Linked DNA regions of Homo sapiens: region 2 is linked to region 1. The links come from fine-mapping of genetic effects on gene expression. Tissue or cell type: whole blood. Region 1 holds a variant in brackets; the other region holds the start of a gene. All regions are shown on one strand. Distances are from middle to middle.

Evidence for each region. PIP is the estimated chance that this variant, and not a neighbour inherited with it, causes the effect.
Region 2: it holds the start of LY6S-AS1, and the variant in region 1 is fine-mapped to the expression of LY6S-AS1 in whole blood (TOPMed, PIP 0.97).

The regions. Positions count from the first base shown.
Region 1 is chr8:142,907,618-142,910,368 of GRCh38, forward strand. No RefSeq gene overlaps it. Among named protein-coding and RNA genes, the nearest start is that of CYP11B2, 8.8 kb to the right of the region's middle. The variant G/T (reference allele first, on the strand shown) is at 1,159.
Region 2 is chr8:143,037,597-143,040,203 of GRCh38, forward strand. It overlaps LY6S-AS1 (LY6S antisense RNA 1), which reads left to right and starts at 1,613. Exons shown (of 6, transcript NR_149322.1): 1 at 1,613-1,973. RefSeq lists an enhancer at 1,285-1,836.

The DNA.
Region 1 (2,751 bases):
CAGCAAGCAGCCAAGCCTGGGTTCAGCTACACTAAGGCATGAACTGGACACAGGACATGGATTGCTTTTCTTTCTTTGGTTTTAGCAATTGTAATGAGTTTCTGCAGCTTGCTGACTGCTTAGCCTATCACGTTAGTTTGCTTTGGCTGCAATAACAAAGTACCCTGGACTGGGTGGCTTAAACAACAGAAAGTTGTTTTTTCACAATTCCAGAGGCTAGAAGACTTAGATGAAGGTGTTCGGGGGGATGGTTTCTGCTCAAGCTTCTCTTCTTGGTTTATTGACCAAATCACAGAGACACCCTCTGTTTGTGCCTGGGTTCTAATCCCTTTTCCTCCAAGGACACCTGTCATATTGGATTAGGGTCTACCTCAATGACCTGGTTTCACATTATTTATCTCTTTAAAGACTCTGTCTTCAAATACAGTAATATTCTGAGGTCCTGGGCTTAGGATTTCAACACAGAAATTTCTGGGAGACGCAACACATGTATAACACCCATGATCCTTATAAAATCCCTGATCTCCAGAACCACCCACACCCCTACACTCCCGTGCCGAAGAGACACCTGGAAAAGGTTGATGGTCTCTGTGCCACTCTGAAAATTAATGGAGATTATCACTTTCCCCAGAAGGTACTTGTCTCATATCAACATCTTACCTCCAGGGAAAGGACCACTCACTCTCCAGAAACTTCTCCTACTAATCTTGTCCAGGATTCTACCGTGACCTTCTACGCTGCATCTCTAACCATCACAACCACTCTTTTTCCTTGGTTACACAAAAATGCCACTAATCTTTACATATACTTTACTAATTTACCAATTGTTATGCTCCAAAAACATAATTGATCAACCTGCTACCTTGACACAAGCAACACACCAAGTATTATTCTTCAAATATATGTGTAGTTCTCAGGTGTATTGAAATTATGTTGTACAAATTCAATGCAATTCCCATCAAAATACCACCATCATTCTTCACAGAACTAGGAAAAACAGTCCTAAAACTCGTATGGAATCAAAAAAGAGCCCCCATAGCCAAAGCAAGACTAATCAAAAAGAACAAATCTGGAGGCATCACATTACCTTATTTCAAGTTATACTATAAGGCCATAGTCACCAAAACAGCATGGTACTGGTATAAAAGTAGGCACATA[G/T]ACCAAGGAACAGAATAGAGAACCCAGAAATAAACCCAAATAGTTACAGCCAACTGACCTTCAACAAAGCAGACAAAAACATAAAGTGGGGAAAGGGCATCCTATTCCACAAATGGTGCTGGGATAATTGGCAAGCCACATGTAGGAAAATGAAACTGGATCCTCATCTTTCACCTTACACAAAAATCAACTCAAGATGGATCAAGGACTTAAATCTAAGACCTGAAACTATACAAATTCCAGAAGATAGCATTGGAAAAACCCTTCTAGACATTGGCTTAGGCAAGGATTTCATGACCGAGAACCCAAAAGCAAATACAATAAAAACAAAGATAAATAGCTGGGACTTAATTAAACTAAAGAGCTGTTGCACTGCAAAAGGAACAGTCAGCAGAGTAAACAGACAACCCACAGAGTGGGAGAAAAGCCTCACAATCTATACATCTGACAAAGGACTAATATCCAGAATGTACAATCAACTCAAACAAATTAGCAAGAAACAAACAAACAAACCCATCAAAAAGTGGGCTAAGGACATGAATAGACAGTTCTCAAAAGAAGATAAACAAATAGCCAACAAACATATGAAAACATTCTCAACATCACTAATGATCAGTCAAATGCAAATCAAAACCACAATGTGATACCACCTTACTCCTGCAAGAATGGTCGTAATCAAAAAATAAAAATAAGAAAATAGATGTTGGCATGGATGCAATGAACAAGGAACACTTCTAAATACTGGTGGGAATGTAAACTAGTACAGCCACTATGGAAAACAGTGTGGAGATTTCTTAAAGAACTAAAAGTAGAACTACCATTTGATCCAGCAATCCACCCAGAAGAAAAGAAGTCATTATACAAAAAAGACACTTGCACACGCATGTTTATAGCAACACAGTTTGCAAGTGCAAAAACGTGGAACCAACCCAAACACCCATCAATCAACAAGTGGATAAAGAAACTAATGCTAGTGCTTTCTCAATAATGACATCCAAGCATCACCAGGCCAATCATGTAATCATCCTTGTTATTTTCTGTGCTTCTGATGCTTTTCTGGGCTTGCATCCTGGACAGGATGCCCTACCAGGGCTGGCCAGTTACTACAGATGGTCAAGGTCCCCCCTGGTGAATGCCTTTCCTGTGAAGTCTTGCCAGCCACCTTGTTGCACACTCCAGGCCACAGCTCCCCTGAACAGATTCCCCCAGAGTCAGGCACCAGACAGCCAGAGACAATCCCTGTGACTCGCAGCCCTGGGTAATCATGCAAAGCAATCAGTCCCAAGCCTGCCTACCCTGCTTTCACTGGCTCCTCCCCCAGGAAGAACTAGAACCTCTGCCTTCAGATTGACCCGGATGCTTCCAATGAGGTCATGATGGCAAGAACAGCCCTGCCACTGCACGCTGTCAGTAACAGACTATTTCTTCAATCACAGTCTTCTCCTGGCCTGTGGGCCTCACCACAACTGAGTAATAATTAAGCTTACATTTAAAAACACAAAAATTTACATGTGGGACAGAGTTGCATGGAATTAGGCAGGCACACACACACACACACACACACACACACACCCATTCGCAGGCACACATTTC
Region 2 (2,607 bases), 130 kb after region 1:
CCTCATCTCTAAAAAAAAAATAAGTAAATAAAAACAAATGTGAGTGACTTCACTCTTCTCTCCCAGAGCCTCCAGTTGTCACTTTTCTGAGTTTCTTCAGGGTCTCTTGAACTGTACTCAGGGTGTCAAGAGGTACAGTTGGGAAGGATGGGGGCCTCTAATGAGGGGGTTAAGAGCATCATTCTGGAGGAGACATGAGGGAGGCAGCAGAGAGGGGCTGTGGTGTGGCCTTCACACACTGCAACTCCTGGAGGTCGGGCAGGGGCAGGATGTCCAGACAGTGGACGCATGAGTGGGGAAGCCTTCAGCCACCCTGACTCCACCTAGGAGGTGCCCCAAGGCAGAACCAGCAGCTGAGCCTGGCCAGCCCCGGCAGCGATGAGAGACAGTAGGTTTTGGGGTGACCAACAGGGAGCCCCAGCAGGAGCCCAGCAGGAGAGAGAAGCTGGATATTGATCCTGCTGGCCCCTCCTGCAGTCCGCAGGACTGTCCACAGCCCTCGCTCCTCTTAAGCAGCTCACCTGCCTTGGTGGCCCCTCCCCTCCTGGCCCCTCCTTTTGGGCCTGGGTTGGGGGTGGCAGGGGTCCTGTCCCTGCACCCGGAGTGGAGTGGGATATGGCACTGGAATGTTTCTAGGCAGCCCACTCCTGTAAGAGGGCCTGGGGCTGGGCCCAGTAGTTCACACCTGTAATCGCAGCACTTTGGGAGGCTGAGGCAGGAGGATCGCTTGAGCCTCGGAGTTCGAGAGCAGCCTGGGCAACATAGAGACCCCACTTCTACTTGAGAGACACACAGAGAGAGAGAGAGGGAGGGAGGGAGAGAGGGAGGGAGGGAGAGAGAGAGGGAGGGAGGGAGAGAGAGAGGGAGAGAGGGAGGGAGGGAGAGAGAGAGAGAGAGAGAGAGAGAGAGAGAGAGAGAGAGAGAGAGAGAGAGAGAGAGAGAGAGAGAGAGAGAGAGAGGGAGAGAGAGAGAGAGGGAGGGAGGGAGGGAGGGAGAGAGAGAGGCTTCTGGTAAATGCTCCTATTTTGCAAACTCTCTTCCTATTTTGTGATTAGGATGCTCCATCAGTTTCTGCCACCAGCTTGCTGGAGACGCTGCGTGTCCCTGACTCCTCTCAAAGGGTGAAAAGCTCAGTCGCACCCGAGACCTGCTCCTCAGGCAGAGGATGAACTGAGTCCCCGCCCCACCGCCCGTCTGGCCTCTGTGAGAGTGGCGTGCAGGCTGACCCTGGAAGCAGAGGGACATTCGAACGGGCCGGCGGCCTTCTCCCCGCTAGGCTGGGCTCCGGGGTGGGCGGAGAGTGGCCGCCACAGGCCATCAGCGTCCGGGGTTCTGGAAGCAGGGAGGGCAGAGGCTGGCCCAGCCTATGGGAGACCCTGCAGAGGCGTGGCCTCCAGGCTAATCCTACCCCAGCTGCCCCAGGGCGGGATTTCTTTTCTTTTTTCCTTTAATCTCTTTATCTACAGGCGCCGAGGCTTAATGAGCTCCAGATGTCTCAACATACCAGGAGAGGTTTAGGATCCCCTGCCAAATACAAGGGAGATAAGAACGCACCAGACTTGCACAAACCAGAGCTGGTGACCCCCAGTTCCCTTTAAATCAGCGACATGTCATTACAAGGCGGAAGTCCTGCCCGAGAGGACAGTCCCCAGGCCTTGCTAAGCATGCGTGGTATCAAGAGGTGCATTGAGGCGCTCCTGCAGCCTCCTCCCGGCACGGGACTCCTCACAACCCCCAGCCTCAGCTTCCCTGACAGGGCAGGGGCTCACTCTTCTCCACTCCGGGCCAGGAACGCAGCCTGCTTGCCTTTTGTCCAATTGGGTGCTCTTTCTTTGCGACTGATACAAAGTGGGAACAAACTCCGCTTCCGGTGATGCCCGGGCCCCAGGAGGCTGGGGGAGAAGTGCACGCTGCCCAGCCTTCAACCTGAACTGCCCCCAGCACTTCCGAGCCCCGACCCCTGCAGCTGTGAGGTGAGGTGGGGAGGGGGCGGCCTGCGGGGAGGGGGCTGCCTGCGGGGAGGGGGCTGCCTGCAGGGCGGGCCGTGTGGGTCCCCCGAGCGTGGGGGACCAGTGACGTCAGGCAACATTTCTCCAAAGGCTCCCTCACCTTGTCCTTTGGCATCTGGGGTGCTCAGAGGAAGGGGGAAGCCGGGAGGGTGTGGAGAGGGTCACTGGAGAGGGGAAAGGCCAGAGTGATCCCCTTGGGGACGAGGCAGAGGAAAAGCTGTGGAGACCTAAAGAGAAGAGGTGGGGTGCGCCTGGGCCTCTCAAGTTTGTTTCCCAGAACCAGGGAAGGTTACAGTGGAAGGGAGGACCCTGTGGGGAAGAAGCTTCCAGAGACCTTCTGGAGAGGTGAGCCAAAGGCGAGCCATGGCCAGAAACCCCAGGCCTGCTGCAGTGGAGAGTCAGTGCTGCAGGAGGCTTGGGAATCAGGGCTGCCCTCCTTGGGCTGAACCCTCTATCTAGGGGACAATGGCCCTGGGCAAAAGCACTGCTTTCTGGGCCCCCTGGAGGGTAGGGCATGACACTGTGGTGCTAGAGGCAGGGGGGACATGAGGAGGTAGACGAATGTCCTGAGTCACCAGGTACAACCACTGCACCCCAT